Regions from separate parts of the Homo sapiens genome. Here all the other regions are linked to region 2. Evidence: fine-mapped expression QTL. A gene starts in region 2. Each other region holds a variant in brackets. All regions are shown on one strand. Distances are from middle to middle.

Evidence for each region. PIP is the estimated chance that this variant, and not a neighbour inherited with it, causes the effect. A credible set is the group of variants that fine-mapping cannot tell apart.
Region 1: its variant is the best candidate, but not a certain one, in a credible set for the expression of RBM26 in follicular helper T cells (Schmiedel 2018, PIP 0.64).
Region 3: its variant is the best candidate, but not a certain one, in a credible set for the expression of RBM26 in stomach (GTEx, PIP 0.70).
Region 4: its variant is the best candidate, but not a certain one, in a credible set for the expression of RBM26 in whole blood (INTERVAL, PIP 0.89).

The regions. Positions count from the first base shown.
Region 1 is chr13:79,364,079-79,368,645 of GRCh38, forward strand. RBM26 (RNA binding motif protein 26) reads right to left here. Exons shown (of 22, transcript NM_001366735.2): 7 at 2,555-2,794; 8 at 1,977-2,117; 9 at 1,500-1,640. Among named protein-coding and RNA genes, the nearest start is that of RBM26, 40 kb to the right of the region's middle. The variant G/A (reference allele first, on the strand shown) is at 2,316.
Region 2 is chr13:79,403,979-79,408,545 of GRCh38, forward strand. It overlaps RBM26 (RNA binding motif protein 26), which reads right to left and starts at 2,277. Exons shown (of 22, transcript NM_001366735.2): 1 at 1,726-2,277. The coding sequence starts at 1,796. RBM26-AS1 (RBM26 antisense RNA 1) reads left to right here and starts at 2,331. Exons shown (of 7, transcript NR_038991.1): 1 at 2,331-2,499. RefSeq lists a silencer at 1,833-2,032 and enhancers at 1,942-2,933, 2,263-2,562.
Region 3 is chr13:79,346,781-79,351,347 of GRCh38, forward strand. All of the region lies in intron 14 of RBM26 (RNA binding motif protein 26), which reads right to left. Among named protein-coding and RNA genes, the nearest start is that of RBM26, 57 kb to the right of the region's middle. The variant A/G (reference allele first, on the strand shown) is at 2,808.
Region 4 is chr13:79,295,463-79,300,029 of GRCh38, forward strand. No RefSeq gene overlaps it. Among named protein-coding and RNA genes, the nearest start is that of RBM26, 110 kb to the right of the region's middle. The variant G/A (reference allele first, on the strand shown) is at 2,261.

The sequences.
Region 1 (4,567 bases), 40 kb before region 2:
CAATTACAAGGAATCCATATATCCCTCACATACAAGCTGTTAAAAAAAATCTTTTTTCTATTGTTGTTAATAATAGCTATTGAAATTCCTCAAAGAGAATTTAAGAGGAATGGGTATCCACATTAAATGTTGTCCTATGATCTAAAAGAGGATATAAATCTGAATTAAAACATTCCTTACACCTTCATTACAAAAAGTCCTTTAAACATTCAAGGAAGATGCTCAGAATCTGATAGCTAGCTTCCAATGAATAAAAGAAAAAACACAAAGTATATGTAAGTAATCACACATTTACCAAACTCCATTAGGCACTGTTACTTACTAACTAAGACTTTTATTCACAACTGACGAAGCATGATTTTTTAATTCTGACTAGGTAAGACAAGAAAAGACTGGAAAGAAAATGGGATTTAAAACTTAATTGAGGTGGTTAGGGAAAAAGATATATTTTTTGTTAGCCCAGGAAATATTTTCCATTATGTCTGACAATCCTTCATTTCCCTATATCAAATGTGATCTGTAGCAAATACTGTATTTTCCAAATTAATGTGAACTTTCTCCCTCTGAATCTTATTAGTTTACATTTACATCTCTAGTGTAGCACTCTAGATGTAGGGCACTCTAGATGTAGGGCACTTTGCTGCCCTAGCTTGTGACTATGTCAACCCAAATTGTACCTTTTAGAAATTTTATCCAAAAGTCTGTCTCCTCTAAGAAAATTTTAAGAGTCATTTCTTAACACATGATATCCTTTGCTTAAAAATATACGCAAACTAATATCAAATTTTAACAGGTGAAGAGTCAGCAAAAATAAATACCAAGCACTATTTGATTTTTCAAACTAGGAATAAACTTATCTTTAGGAATTAAAGCGTTACTCTCAAGATTACAAATGATACAAATTACTAAAAAAAAAAAGGCTACCCAAGAAAATGTGCTTCTTTAAGGAAATTCCTTTCCTTCTTGGACAGTGTAATAATTGTATAATAAAGTGTCACCTCTACCACAAATACAGAATTACACAGTATATTTTCTCCAACGGGGGAACGAAGGATACAGGGAACAAACAAAATCGCCATCCCAGCCAGTCACGGGGGCTCAAGCCTATAATCCCAGCACTTTGGGAAGCCAAGGCGGGCGGATCACTTGAGGTCAGAGAAGTTCAAGACCAGCCTGGCCAATACGGTGAAATCCCATCTCTACTAAAAATACAAAAACTAGCTGGGCATGGTGGCAGGCACTTGTGATCCCAGTTACTCAGGAGGCTGAGGCAGGAAAATCACTTAAAGGGGAGGCAAAGGTTAGAGTGAGCTGAGATCACGCTACTGCACTCCAGCCTAGGCCACAGAGTGAGACTCTGTCTCCAAAAATAAAATGAAATAAAATAAATCACCATTCCTTATCCAACCCCAATAAAGGCAAGACCAACTGTTCTTTATAAATGTTTTCCCACTGTTTATATTATGAAAATGACAGGAAGGAAAGATTAATTATAGTACCTCTGGGTGGCAAATCCATATCCCCTGATGTTAGTCCTATCAAGTTGGGCCTTTGTGCATGCACTCTGTGTCTATACATAGGTCTGGAAGTGTTTGTTATGCTTGGGGCTTCAGGATTGTAGCCATCTGTGTCATATGTATCTGGTAATACAAAAACTGTAATTAAAAAACAATTATAAAACTCCACTTGGTAATTTTTTAATATTGATAAGAGAAAAAGTAAACAATATAACATATTAACATATAACATGCTCTATATGTATCAAAAAGAAAATAACTTTATTTAAAAAAGTTATTAAAAAGAAAATGTTTTTTTGAAAACATTCAAAACTGAGGGCTTATTTAATGTTCATTCACCACGGCTACATAATTTTAGTGAGAAAAGTAGTCCTCACAGAGCAATTCTCTCTAGACATTTTAAAATTCTTCATCTAAAACTGTGTTACATTACGAATATAAAAAGGGCCAAAACTGCACCTGCAGTAAAAAGAGAGGGTGGAGCAGGAGGAGGCTGGTGATGAATGCCAGTTGTTACTACAGTAGGAACAGAACTGGTTGCAGAGTTTGGAGGAGCATCCATGCCAGATGGCTGCAAAGGAGGAAGTGGAGGTGGTGGTCCTGTCAAAACCAAAGAATAAGAAATATCATCTGAAAGCAAACAAATAAAACAAGTTATTGCACATCCGAACATAATCTTCTCATTTATCAAACTATAATATCTACAAACACCAAGCCCTTACAACTGAATTAGATATCCAGGGTAAAATATCCTTTTAATACATTCCAAAGCAGGTTTGCCTTAAGCTATGAAGGCCT[G/A]CAGGCAGCTGGGTTTTACCAGTGATATACTTAATTCACAGGGTCACTCCAAACCATAGTAACTGGCTTGGCACAGGCTACAAAGTGGAGGTGTATTCCAAATGGAAGTATACTGCTATTAATTTCTATCAGGCATTTTTGGGATTCCTTTAGATACTTTTAATTTAAGAATCTATTAAGTTTTAAAAATAGACTAAGAATGGCTAGATAAATACAGGGAAACAAACAGATTTACTTACCTGTAACAGGTGGGAGACTGGGTGGCAATGGACCTGGCGGTGGTACTGGGGGCCTGAGATTCACAGGTGGGGGTGTAAGAATTGGTGGAGGTGGGGGGAGTCCAGGAGGAGGTGGTCCTTCAACAACAGGAGGCTGTGCTGGGAAAGGCAGCATACCAGGAAGATTCACATCTTCTACAACTACTGGATCACTTCCATGATCAAAAGGACACATGTCTCCTCTCATACAAAAACCCTTTTCTATGAGGAAGGAATAGTTAGAAACAAATGTCAAAAGCACTGGAAATATATATTTTCTCTAAGTTAGCAAAAGTAAAATATTTAAAAATATGAATATTTTTAATATTGGACAAAAGTATAATTAACCATTTCCCAAGAGCTACCTGATCTTCTCCAGTAATATAAATACTTGTAAAGTGATAGTATATTTAACATACTGATATAGTTAGGATGTTTATCCTCTCCAAATCTCATGTTGAAATGTGACAATCTGGCTGGACGTGGTGGCTCAGGCCTGTAATCCCAGCACTTTGGGAGGCTGAGGCAGGTGGATCACCCGAGGTCAGGAGTTCGAGACCAGCCTGACGAACATGGTGAAACCCCATCTCTACTAAAAATACAAAGATTAGCTGGACGTGGTGGCTGGCGCCCATAAGCCCAGCTATTAGGGAGGCTGAGGCAGGAGAATCGCTAGAACCCGGGAGGCAGTGGTTGCACTGAGCAGAGACTGTGTCATTGCACTCCAGCCTGGGGTATAGGGGGAGACTCCATCTCAAAAAAAAAAAAAAAAAAAAAAAAAAGAAGAAGAAGAGGCAAAAGAGAGAAATGTGACAAACGATGTTGGAGGTGGGGCCTGGTAGGAGGTGTTAGGGTCATGGGGGTAGATCCTTCATGAATAGCTTGGTGCCCTCCCAAGGTAACAAGTGAGTTCGCCCTCTATTAGTTCACAGGAGCTGGTTGTTTAAAAGAGCATGGCACCTCCCCCACCACCAACCCCACTCTTGCTCCCTTTTAGTTGCTCTCCCTTCGCCTTCTACCATGATTGTAAACTTCCTGAGGCCTTCACCAGATGCAGATGCTGGCACTACACTTTTTGTACAGTCTGCAGAACCATGAGCCAAAGACACCTCTTTTCTTTATAAATTTCCCAGGCTCAGGCATTACTTTAGAGCAATGTTAAACTAACGTATACATACTAAAAAAACAAAAAAAACACACAAATGAAAATAACCTAACGAGATGAGACTTAAATATAATTTTTGTCATATTTTTGTCTTTAGAAATGTCCTTCATTTAAATCTCTTAAAACTAAAAAAAATTGCAATGATGGCTTTAATACTACTTATAAATCTTTTACGGTAAATCCTTAAAAGTCTTCAATTCTTTTTATTTTTTTATTTTTATTTTTTTTGAGACGGAGTCTCGCTCTGTCACCCGGGCTAGAGTGCAGTGGTGCGATCTTGGCTTACTGCAAGCTCCACCTCCCGGTTTCACGCCTTCTCCTGCCTCAGCCTCCCGAGTAGCTGGGACTACAGGCGCCAGCCACCACGCCCAGCTAATTTGTTGTATTTTTAGTAGAGACGGGGTTGCATACCATGTTAGCCAGGATGGTCTAGATCTCCTGACCTCATGATCCACCCACCTCAACCTCCTAAAGTGCTGGGATTACAGGCGTGAGCCGCTGCGCCCAGCCAAAAGTCTTTAATTCTTTAATAAAATTCTTACAAAGGTGACATTTACATTTCTAGATACATTTCTATTTACAGTCCAATAATCACTCATTCTAAAGAAATGAGTTTTGTCAATAATGTTTCAGTAGCAGATTCCCTGATAAAAACTCAGTAGATATTTACTCATTTGGTAAACTCCCACAATTTATTAAGACTTACTTGCAAATAAATACTACCTTTAAATTGATAATCAAATTAGTGGCAACTAATAAATGTTTCAATCATATTGAGGAATTCAAAAAGTGACTAAGGCTAATTTCCCACTTTTCAGAGGTAAGTCTTT
Region 2 (4,567 bases):
GTACTAGGCCCTCTTCTCTTCCCTACCTACACACTTTTTCTATGAAATTTCCCACAATGTCATCGTCTTAAATACTATCTGCATGACTCCAGATTTCTCCAGTCCTGTCCTGAGTTTTAGACTCATATATTCAATGATCTGCTATCACACTTAGCTGTATCCCACAGACTTCATACTTACTGTATTTATTATTATCAAAACTAGCCATCCACTTTCCTTCTCCCCTTAACCTGTTCTCTGCCTTCTCTAATATCACCCATTCTGTTGCTTGGGTTATCTAAGGCACCACCCTTGATTTCCCTTTCCCTCATCTCCCGCATTTAATCCATTAATTTTACTTATGAAATGTATTTGGATCTGCCTGTCTCCACCATCACTCTAATGCAAACTAGCCACATCTCTGCCTACAACACACTTCTGAATAATCTTCTTACTTCCATTCTTGCCCTTTCAGTCTCTACAAAATAGGCAGAGTTAAAACAAAATTAAATCAGTCCTTGTCTGCTTTAAATCATCTCACGTCTTCCCATACATGATGTGGCCCCTACCTACTTGTCCAACTTGTTGCCTTTATATCCTCTCCCTCATCACAAGGCTCTTTCCAGCCACAGTGGCCTTTCTCTTCCTGAAACACACCACAATCACTTCTGCTACAGGGCCTTTCATTTGCTCTTCCTTTTGCAAGGAATGTTCTTTTCCAAGACTTTGACACACATGGTCCCTTCTCTTTAGATGTTACTCCAATGTCACCTTCTCTGAGAGTCCTTCCTTGACCAATGTGAAATAGCCCCCCTCATAATCACTTTTACATGATTCTCTATTATTACAATAGTCACAACTCTATTAATATCTGGATTTATTTATGTCTTGTCGATTTTAGAATTTAAAAGCTCTATCCCCAAAGCCTCCCGTAGTATACAGTAGGTACCTAATAACTTTATTAAATACGTGAATTTTCCCCATTGCATTATTGTAAATCAACCAATTCTGATTAAGCACTTTGGTCCATGTCATATTTTGTATTAACAAGTCGTCAAAACACTCCTTAAATTTTCCAATCTAAGACTATTTCAGCACTCTAACCGCAGCCCCCAACACAAAATCTATCTATAGCATCCCACTTAAAACTGCTAAATATTCCATATGGATGAAGATTCAATTTTCTTCCTCCTCTCCAAGCTAACGAACGCGTAGGCGGGAAAGGGGAATTTTACTGGCCACCTCAGCACCTGTTACATCTTCAATCAGTGAAGAGAGGTGCAGATGAGCCAGACAGCACATGGGAGACGTGGCCTTGCTTTCAGGAATTATATTTAGGTGAAACGTGAGTGATTTAAGCTAGAACTGCCCGAATCCCCAATAAAGGCCGTCTACTTCATTTAGAAAAACAAGGTAAAATAATCTGTAGGAAGTAAAATACAGTCGGTTTCACTAAAATAAACCGATTTTGAGGCCCCCGGAAAATATTGCGGGTGGGGGTTGGAGACGGTCTATATATAACGGGAAAACGAGAGCAGCTCAGCAATAAAATAAAGCTCGACTCAGGCTCTCGGGGGTATCCTGAATCTGGAAGCGAGGTGGACGAGGAGGAGAAGCCACAGAACCCTGGGACCTCCGTTCACCGCTTCGGCCTCCACCGCAGGCACTTGGGGAAACTGCACAGATCTCTGGGTCCGCCTATCTCCCACTGCCATCCCTGCAAAGAGATATCCCCCGGATACTCACATGGGCTCGAGAGTCTTGCTGAGCCAGGACTTGAGTGCCTCGAAGTTTTCAATGATCATTTTAGAAACCATCCACAGCGGCCCTAAGGCCCGTCACACTCCTCCGCCCGCCCAGGTCGCGGCCGCTACAGCCGCCGCTGCCCCCGCCCCCTCCTCCGCGCGCCGCCCGCGTGGGCCGCGGTGGGAGGCGCCGGTGGCAGGTTCCCGCGGGCCCCGGTCGGCGAACAGCTCTGCAAGGACCGCCGCAGGCCACAAGTGCACGGGGTGCCAGGAGCTCCCCGTCCCCGGCCCCCAGCCCGGGCTGAAACAGCAACGGTTTGCCCGGGCCCTCCCCCTTCCCTCTTCCCCAGCAAATCTACCCAGACCGGAAGCGCGACACGCGCTTAGACCCGAGCCTTCTCTCAGCCTCGGGACCAGGTGCTTGTTGGCTACGTCGAAAAGGCAAAAGTAAAGAAAGCGAAGGCGAAGGGCAGCTCAATGGGAACGATTCAGGGGGTCTTCCCGGCTCCCAGCACCCCCAAGAAGATGGCTGCCGGTAAATCTCGCGAGAATTGATGAAGTCTCGCGGTGGCTCCCGGAGCCTGCTGGGAGAGACGTAAGGTCGGCGGAGAATGCGCGGGTCGAGTGCTGTAGTTCGATTTTTGCGTGTGTGCGTTGCTTGCGGCCTTTGTGCCTTTTTATTCTTTGCTTACCTTTATGATATAAAGACCTTATTTCTTACAAGGAGGAAAAGACCGCTGACTTCAGAAACAGCGGGAACCCCAGCTCGTCCCCGGTAAGACGGCCGTGGCCTGTCAGCTGGAACGGTCCTGCCGGATGGATCGCTCTTTGAGAGCGTACACTCCCGCGTGCGCGACACCAGGCGGCCCGTAGGTTCCAGGTGCCGAGCACACTACCTCCTCAGTTTACCTAAGTGCCCTACCAGTATCATATTCTGTGTATGCTGTGATGTGAACGAGGTTTGTAAACACAGGCTGGTCTAATGGAGCCCAATGAGACCGCCAGAGGATTAGTGTCTTGTCCAACAGTACTTGACTTGCTGGTAGAGCCCTAATGACTGAGGGCTGCCCACAAGGGAAAGGTGAGAGAACCTTCACGTCTCTCAGGTAGTTTCCAGCCTGCACTTTCCCCCAGCTAAAGATAAGTTTTGTTATTTTTAAAATTCTCTTTATTTAGAGCAAATTCAGCCCTATCTCAGATCGGGAAATTATATAGTATCAAAAGAGAGAGTCTTCATATTAGCAACCCAAATAAATAAACTATTTTCCTGGGTGATCAAATAAGTTTGATTCCTGCTTGAGTTCTATTTAGATACTAGGTGGAATTTTACAAAGGGTCTACGTTCCATGAACTGTAATGGAATGAAAATATTCACAATCTAAAGACATTTTCAGTAAGTAGATCAATAAAAGCTCTTTATGAGAGACACCGATAGGCTAAATTGTTCTTAGGAACTCTTGAGTTTATAATTTGCTAGAGTGAAGTGTCTTTAAGGATTAGGTGGAAAGATTATGAACTACAAAGCAAGACATTTGTTTTAAAATACAGCATATAGAGTAGAATACAAATTAGAATCCAGCTACTGAATAACCAGGGTGTTGATTAAAGTGATTTAGCTGAGTGAAATAAACCAGACATGAAAGGACAAATATTATGATTCCACTTACATTAAGTACCTAGAGTAGTCAAAACTCCTAGAGACAGAAGGTGGAATGGTAGCAAGAGCAGGGGTGGAGAGGGTGCCCAGGAGAAGGGGAAATGAGGAGTTATATTTCAGTGGATAATAGAGTTTCAGTTTAGGATGATTTAGATTCTGGAGATGAGTGGTGTTGTGTGGGTTGCACAATATGAATGTACTTAATGCAGTGGACCATATACTTAATGAAAACGGTAGGTTTTATATGTATTTTACAATAAAAATTGTTTATAAATTTAATACTGCCGAAAGTTAAAATTATATTTGTTTAGTCTGTTTGTTGTAGCCTTGCCACAGGCTGACGCCACCAATATTTTCAACCTTATCACCAGCTACTCCATTACTCTGGCTCTCCACTTCAGCCTTCCAAAGCTTCTATCAAATACTGTATACCCCAGATAAACTGATTTGCTCACCCTCCCTTTCTCCAAACATTTGTTCACTTTATTTTCCACAGAGAACGCTTCTACTTCTTTCCCTGACTGCTCAAACTTTGCCCATCCATCTCTCATACCACTGTCACTGTCTTATTTAAAGTCTTTTATTCTTCCTAAATAATAGCAAAAGCCTTTTAATATCTTTGCCTTTTATGCTGACCTCCATCTCAGTTCATCTTCAGTTGCCCTCATCATCATTGCCTTTAATAGCAGTAATTCTAAAATTTTGATCTAATCATGTCACTTTCTTGCTTAAAATCTTCAACTTCCACATTATCTTTAGAATAAAACACATTATTTAACATCCTATAAAGGGACTTTCATAAATCAGACACCTTCCTTTTTGCCTAGAAACTCCTTTCAGTCTTTGCTCCAGCCATCCTAAACTATTTTGAGTTCCTTAAAATAAGTTGTTCCATGAAAAGGCCCTTTATGCAAAGTGCCCCCCAAACATCAAAGGAGAAATCAAATGAACAAAGCAGACAAATCCAGTTTGGTCAGTAAAGAGTGTTTTGTTGGGGGTAACTTACAGACAGAAGCATGGTCTTCAGTGGCAGCAAGACAGGTAGATGTCTGCCCTTTTACTCCCCAGACCAGTACTTACATGCCATAAGGAAAGGGTGTACGTACTCTATAGAGACATTTAAAGGCAACCCTCCAGACAGGCAAGAATGCTATATGCATCATAGCCTGTAATTTGTGTGATAACA
Region 3 (4,567 bases), 57 kb before region 2:
CACATGACTATACAAAGACAAGACAATATATTAGTAGAGAAACACAGGATAAACTGAAAACAGAGCCTAATTAAGTTTCACAAACTGTTTTCTTCATGAGGATTCCATAAGTTGAAAAGTTGTGGCCAAAAGAAAAAACTCCTAATTATTTAAGTGTGAAACAATGAATATCGTAACCCAATTTTCCAGTTTTTAATTTATATTATCTTCATAATAAAAGCAGTGAGAAGCCAAGAACAAACCCATATAATTTATTTAACCAAGTATTTCTCCAGTTTCAGTGAGAATACTCCTTTTCAAATCATTTTTGACATGTAGTATCAGACTAAGGAGTGCTGGTTCAAAGTGAATAAAAGTATCTGACAATGATAAGACTCCTTTATTCCTAGAAGTATTCCCATTTCCTTTTTTATCCAGGAACATCCTTCTGTAAAACTAGAACATCCACGAATGTGACTCACTAAGGCTACAACTCAGTGACTGTAAGACAAACTATCATTTATGTACCCCTACTAAAGAAAAAAAGGCTGCCAATCATAACCTGTGTCTAACAATTATAAGACACAGCCCAACGTCAGAGGTGTTAAAATGTAAAAATGTGACTTATAAACAATGAACTATATTGTTCACTATTTGAATCTATCTGGTTCTGGAGATTAGACAGTTTGGATAGTAAGAGACACATGTATTTTCAAAAGAAGAAAATCTATTAAAACTGAAATTAGTGGAGGGAAGTAACGAGCCCAACAGAAAAGAAGATACTCCAATTCCTAAGAACAGAGACAGTGACTTCTCCAAACAACCACATTTCTATATTCCAAATGCATTTCTATATGTGCTATAATTTTTACATATTTACTTCTATACATCTTACTACACTTACTTAATCCCAACTGTGTGAATTATTTTGAATTTTCTATATCTACAACCATGTCATCTGCAAGTAAACAGTTTTATTTCCAATCTTTATATGGTTTATTCTATTTTCCTTCCTTAGTGCACCCATGAGTCTCTCCAGTACAATACTAAAAAAAATAAAAGTGATGCAAATGGACATCCTTGTCTTTCCCAACCTCAAGGAAAAACAGTCAATATTTCACAATTGAATATTATGTTAGCTGTAGTTTTTTTTCTTTTATTGCAGATTTCCTTCATCAAATTAAAACAGTTTTTCTCTATTCCTCCTTTGCAGAGTGTTTAATGTAACTAAGTAACAGAACACTTTCTCTACTGAGCTAATCATCTAGAGTTTTTTCCTCCCTCATTCTACTAACATCAATTAAACTGATTTTTCCAATGGTAAATCAACCTTGAATTTCTGGAATAAATACTACCTGGCCATGAATGATTATGTATTTCATGTATCACTGGACATTTGCTAATATTTTCTCTAGGATATTTGTGTCTATGTTCATGACAGATGTTGGTCTGTAATTTTCCTTTCTTATAGTATATTGTCAGGTTTGGTATGCTGAACTCAGAAAATAAGTTGAAAAGTATCATGTGCTGTGTTGTTAAAATGTATAGCACTAATACCTCTTATTTTCCCTAAAGAGAGGGAGGTTACAATCCATTAACACCTCCTTATTTTATTTCCTATGTAAAATAATACCAGCCACAATAACTATAAGTAATCGTAAAGAAAGAGAAAAACAGCTGTTTTTCATAGATAAGAATGGAAGGGAAAAAGTATTTTGTAAAATTAAGTTATCCGAGTATGATTTTTCAATAACCAATGCCTAAGTAGAAATTAAATACAAATATAGTTATGATGTCTAGCAGCCACACTCACAATAAATAGCTCCAACAGGTTTTTAAAGCAGAAATACATTGGTTTAATGCAATCAAAAGACAGTATGAGGAGCTATGTGTAGGAAACGTATTAATACAGTTACTGTATGGTCAGTTTTCATAGTAAGTAGTCACCTGTTCAGTAAATCTGAATGTTCGTTTATGATATTCACTTAAAGCAGCACACAGATGTGCGTTCTGTATCAAACCTGAGAATTCTGGTGAGAAGAATGGGATTTTGGTTTAAAGTTAAGTTTATACATACTTTTAGATATTAATCGTTTTTAAATTTCAAGAACACAAAGTATGTTTTAATGCACTGATCTACCTTATCTTTTTTGTAGCTTTCAAAATTTTATTCTTTTAATTGACAAAAACTGTATAGAGATGTCCCTTAACTTATGATGGGGCTATATCCATTGTAAGCTGAAATACCATTTAAGTTGAAAATACATTTTCAACTTGTAAGTAATAAATGCATCATCAAATTGAAAAACTGTTAGTCAAGTCACCGTAAGTTGATGACTGTCTGTGTATTTATCATGTACAACATGCTGTTTGAAATATATACACTGTAAAATGGCTAAGTCAAGCTAATTAACATTTGTATTACGTCACTTTTTTTTGTGGTGAGCTGCTTTCTTGGCAATTTTCAAGAATGCAACACATTGTTATTAACTATAGTCACCACGTTGTACTATAGATATCTTTAATTTATTTCTTCTATCTAACTGAAGTTTTATATCTTTTGACCAACATTTCCCAATCCCCTGTCCTCAGCCACTGGTAACCACCATTCTACTCTCTGCTTCTATGAGTTCAACTTTTTAAGATTCCACATATAAGTGAAATAGACAAAGGGATTAAAAGAAACAAAGATTAAAAAACTTGCAGAGAAATATTTTAACAAACATCAAAGTAAAAAATATGTACAGCTAGTAATGAATTTTTGCTACACAAATAGCTTAGTTACTACAAAGTTCAGCAAAGCTAATACACTCAAATAAATTAATTTC[A/G]TATTTTCCTGAAAAAAAAATGCAGGTAATAATCCTGAGAGGCCACTGAATTAAAAAATAAAAATTAAAAATAGTCAATAACAGTTAAGAAAAAAAAACTATGATAAATCCCACTCTTTTTTTTTTTTTTGAGACAGAGTCTAGCTCTGCCACCCAGGCTGGGGTGCAGTGGCGCCATCTCGGCTCATTGCAACCTCCACCTCCCTGGTTCAAGTGATTCTCCTGCCAGCCTCCCAAGTAGCTGGGATTACAGGCGCCCGCCACGAGGCCCAGCTAATTTTTGTATTTTTAGAAGAGACAGGGTTTCACTGTATTGGCCAGGCTGGTCTCGAACTCCTGACCTCGTGATCTGCCTACCTCGGCCTCCCAAAGTGCTGGGATTACAAGCGTGAGCCATGCGCCCAGCCAAATCCCTCTAAATCTTTTAACTAGCAAAGTTACACAACAAATTCAAATTTCAAAAATCCAAGGAAACATATTAAGATTTGCTTAGCATCTACACAATGGCACCTGCTAAATCAACAGGTGAAGTTTCTCTATAACATGCAATATTCTTTTAATTATACCACACAATTTTCCTTTTAAAAGTTCCATGGTATAGATGTTAATATATCATCATGCAGAGACCAAGATATATTTTTACATTGCAAAAACCACAAGAACAATAACATCCTGTATCATAAATCTGATATTTAAAGCTGATATGATAAAGAAGATTAAATATTCCACTGGTTACGCAGTTTGCCTTCTTAGAATTTAGAAGGGATTCAGCAAGATAATTTGAACGGTCTTAAGTCTGTTTTAAAAAACTAACCAGGACAGTATACACAGATGTAGCCCTTTATTCTTCATGAATTTCTTTAGTAAGCAGAGGCACTCAAACATAATTTATCAAATCTATTCACATAATAACTAAATACCTCTTGCAATATCTTCATATTTACCAGCAGCAATTACGTTTTAACTTTCCTCTCTTCTAGCCTCCTCACGAAAATGGGGTCTCAGGATAAAGAATAATCACTAAAGGTTTTACTGTGTGTTGTTGATAGGGAAGGTATAAAATGTTACATTTGTGTATTTATTTAGTTTAATAATGACATAGGATACTGTATAGATACAAGCTTTGGGTTTTCCCCTGCCTTCATTTTTTTTAAAAAAAGAATCTTTCAACTAATATTTGATGATGGGGAACATTCTTCTATTCTTTCTAAGACTTCTTTGAATCACTGCCCTGTAAGTATTTTGGACCCAAACCCCCTAAGGATTAGGGGAACAGAAACAACAAAAATAAGCAAAAATAAAATGTTTCTCTGTAAAGACACTCACTGAAGATGAATAAAAGTTACATACTTACTGTTTTCCTTAATAGGCTGTTTACGGTATTTATCAAAAATATTTTTCCCCATAAATAGCTTGCTACCATAAATGATTTTTTTCCCATAAAAATTCAGTTAGTAGTTTATTGCATTAGCATAATATATGGGTATATATATTAGTCTATGCATTAGTAAAGTTATATTATCAACTACAAATTTGTACTCACAATACACTGCAAAAATTTTATAAAAGCTATGAGTACACACTTCAATTTCAAAAGTCCAAATCTGACATTACAGACTCCAAATATAACTGAGCATTTTAGATGTCTCTAGAATTTCTCAGTAGTACACTAAGTACAGCTGAACTTAGTGTTAAATTTTATTTTACATTTAATTGACAGAACTGTACATATTTATGGGGTACAGTGTGATGTTTTGATA
Region 4 (4,567 bases), 110 kb before region 2:
CAGCAACCCCTCTCCTTAACTTCTAAGCTGTTGTAACTAACATCGCATTAACCATTTTTGTAAAATGTTACATGCGTTTGTAATTGGGAGACAAGAAAACTACACAACTACATGCTTTGCTGTATGTGCACGAACTGAATAAAAGATGCACAGTAACCAATCACTGACAGACTTTGAAAGAAGCAACATGACTGTTCAGTGATCAAGATGCAGGTCTCTTATTTACACAGTGATTTGCAGATTAAAGAGCTAATAATGAAGTTTGTACTTTATACAATTAACCACAGTTGATATACTATGGTAACTGATTTTTAATCATGAAGGACTGGTGTTATTTACGAAAACTGTGGTAACTGAAATTCGTGCACATGAGAAGCATCTACAGCAAGGATCTCCCATAGTTGTTTGTTAAGTCTCAACTCTTTGGGGGTTCATAACTTTATTCCTTTTGAATTATAACTCATCTTCTTCAATAAATGTACCTCCAAACAGACTTGACTGGTCTTTTTCCTTTTAGAAACAAATTCATGGTGAAGTTTTATGAGTAATAAAAGCAATCTGTTCCCTTCTATTCTTTTTCCTCATGATATTTACACATTTCCTTGTGTTCACACACTAGATATGTGAGTCATACTGCATCATGCGCATTGGCCCATGGGCACGGTGGGCTGTGCTACTCAGCTGCCTTCTGTGTAAGTACATACAAAGATTAGATGAGAGTGGGCACCTCATGCATATGGATTATAGTTGTTTCAAACCTCTTTTGCCATTCTTCAAAATTTCCTGCCTTAGAATTCTGCATCCATGGCTTTTGCCAGTTGACATTGCTTTATGAGAGTAGGCAGAGTGTATGTGGCTTGGCTGATGGATTATGGGTGGATGTGACATGTGCCAGACTGAGGCCTCCTGAGATATGACATGTGTCTAGTCATCCTCTCATTCTACAACTACATGCAGGAAAGGAGAATGCCCAAGACTCTGCTGCTCCTCCTGCCTGAGCCCCAGTGTGAACACACGTGGGACAGAAGTAAAGCAAGCCCCACAGGCTTGGAGCAAATCTTCTCAGTTGACCCTAGGGTAGATCAGCTGAACTGCAGTTAACCTGCAGATGTGCAGAATGGAAGCTTATTGTAAGCCACTGAGTTGTTGAATGTTTCATTATGCTTTTTTTTTTTTTTTTTGGCAATAGCTGATGAATACAGGGCAACAGTATGCGTGAAGCTAATTAGAAAATCCCCCCAAAAGTTATACTGAAGAACACAAAGACTTTCCAGCTGGTAGAGAGAGGAAATGCAGTAAAGACACAGACAAAGCTGAGGTGCTATGGAAAAAGAGACACAGAGTGGTTGCTTTTCACCTGGAATAAGTTTGGACTTCCCAGCCTTTTTTGCTTGCAGCAGCCTGAATTCTCTGAAACATTAAAGAGCTCACTGTCTCTATTCCACAGCCTTCATGCCTGTGAAGGTTGGATCTCCAGAGTATATTAGGAGTAGTTAGAGTGGAAATGGAGAAATGTTGAGACTTTCCACAGGAGTCCCTATATCTAAATCTAACTAGGCCTGAAGGTAAATTCAATTTACCGTTTCAAATGAGGCCCTAGGAGTGGATGGTGGAACTACGCAGCATCCACTTTCATTAGAACTGTCTGGGCCTTTCCTTTTCACCAAGACATAGAGCTCATAGGAGAAGGTGAGCCTTTTATGAAAATTACTAATCCATTGAATTATTACCATCTCTCAAGTAAATCTCTAACCTACATAATCTCATTTGATTTTTCTCAAAGCTCAGTGAAAAAGGTGCTATTTTTAGCTGCATTTTACATATGAGGAGACTAAAATATATATCCTAAGTCATTTGCTTAAGGCCACACAGTTAGTAAACCCGGATGCTTAACGTCTCTACTCTAGCCATATTATGCTACTTGTTTTTAGGAAGTAGTGGTAGAAACCAACTCCTGCCCTAGAAAGATTTTCATTATCCTAGGCAAGAAGATACAGTCCTTGAAATAAACAAACAATTCAGAGCAAAGAAAAAAATACTTTTTTTGTACTTTACTTATAGCAAACATGGACAAAATGCATTTCTTCCATGCATCAGGTGTTTTTATTCTCTGCTGGGCTTTGTTATCTCATCTTTCTCCCCTGGGATTCTTTCTCTCCCCAGTACTCCTTTCTATACCTTTAGTATTCACCATTTCCCTTCTCCCAATCCCTCAAAAAATCCAGAGCAGCTTAATTCATTTATTTTACAAATATTATGC[G/A]TGCTTATTATGGGCAAGTCATTTTAATTTTGTAATGGACAATTATAACATTTCAGTTGTGTTAGTATTTCTGGGGATTGGTTGCCAATGGCAATCAACACACTCCAGTACTTGATACCTGCCCCAGTTCCAGTCAAAAGAACTTTCTCTCAAAACTGACTTAAAAACACAGTCCAGTTAGTTCCATGCATTTCTGCCAGCCATACCATGCTTGAGTAGTCCTTGAACCATCAGGCCTTGAGCACCATATTCTTGCACACTCTCATTACTGTTTTCACAACCTCTTTTCTCCATCCCTTCCCATGGTGCATCCTGAAATCTCTGTCCATTATAAACAAATTCCTTTACATTTTTAACCTCTTCCTTTCCCCTGTCTCTTTTCTTTCAGTCTATAAAACATGTTCATGAAGTTCCCTCAGTCTTTGGTAGCCACCATTCCAAAAAGAAATAAACACTCCTTTACCTAGCAAAGTCTAAGCTACCATACTAAATTTTGCCTTCTCTCCACTGTTCACGTTGAGTTCCCTACATTCAGTCTCCACTTAACTTCCCAGTTTCTCTTCATTCTACATCAGTCTGTCTTCTCCTCCCATGAAACTGCATATGGATTTATGAGTTGCTAGATCCTCTCCATCTTGATCTTATTTGACTTCTTACTTGATCAAGCTCTGGCTTGTGAACTTCTCTCTTTTCTTGGCTTTTGTGACACCACCTCACTTAGCTCTTCTTTTCTTCTAGCAATTTTTTCATCTGCTTCATGTGTACCTTCTCCTCTAGGTCCTGTAAATATTGAGGGTTCATCGGGATTCTATCCTTAGCCTTCCCTCTTCACGTGCTGCATGTGCTCTCTGAGGAATCTCTTTCATATATGTGGTTCTCACACCTATGTCTGCAGCCTAAATGTCTCTTCTGTGCTTCAGATAGCAGATATCTGCCTACAGGATATTTCCACTTTGATATTCCACAAGGTTAAAATGTCAAAAACAAATTCAACTCCTTCTCTTGTCCTATAAACCTGTTCCCAACCCCACATGTTCAATCTCAGTGTATCACACAGCCATCAACTTTGTTGCTCAGCCCAGAGACTTGGAGTCTCCTAACTGTCCCTTTTATGCCCAATGTTCTCCATGCTTCCAATTTATCCTCCTCACCATTATGAAAGAGATCATTAAAAACTGCAAATCTAATCATTTTACTATTCCCCATCCTCATCCCTGCCCTTCTTGTGTCCCAGCCTCTTTCTCTCAAACTTTCAGACATTTAGGTGGCTCCCCAGCACCTCACAATGAAGTTCAAAGTTCTTACCATGCTCTGAACTTTGCTATTTAGACTCCTGTCCTAATTTCTCCTATTTTCCTTAAAATCCTTTACATTTTAATCACTTCATGATCCTTGCCACTCCTCTGAGTACTTATTTTCATGAATTGATAGTCAGGGAACTTTAAAAATATAAGATATTAGGAAAGAGAGTGGATAAAGCAGAAAAGAAGAATTATGGAGGGATGGCAAGATGTTTGTCTACCCACTAGCTGCAGAAGTTTAGGTAGAAAATAGGAGCTGTGTTCAAAAGACCGTATCTGTCAGCCATATCATGCTTGAGCTCTGAACAGATGCTGTACACTGGGTCACAGCAACAAAGACTGACAGAGTTGGGATGGGTCATTGACTTCTTCAGACCACAGCACAGCCCTGGTGCCCCGAAGGTATAGGGTAGAGGTAGGGGGGATAATGGGGGCTGAGTAACCCCAGCACAGCAGTGCTTTCACAGAGGCCACTATGATTGGAGTGAAGACCATGGTGAAGGTTCCTGATGAGTTTGGAATGGAAGAACATGAGGGGAGTAGTTGAGACCAGATATTCTAGAGGATTACCAGGTATAACTGGGAAAGATGGCGAAAGAGGGGTGATATTCAGGAGTTATGCAGGTGGGGACTAGGCAGCAAATTACATGTCTACTGGGTTGCAAGGAAAACTGAAGACATCTGATGGGGACTCCCTTAATTCCACTGCCAAACCTAAAAGCGGAATGAACTTTTTTTCCCCTCACCTTGATTGTTTCTACTTCTGTCTAAGGGCAGTTCCTATAATTGTGCTTCAGATTTTTTCTCATCCGATCTTTTTGGCTGCCTTAAACTATTATTATTGCTCACTCTGTCTTGAGACTCCTTTCTGTAGAGATTTAAACATAATTCCCTGGCTTCCCTTTATCCCCCCTGACTTGCAAACTACAATCCTATCTCTCTTCCACCCTTAAAAAATCTTCTGAAAAAACTTGTCTATACTCTCTCTCTATGTCCTTACCTTCCT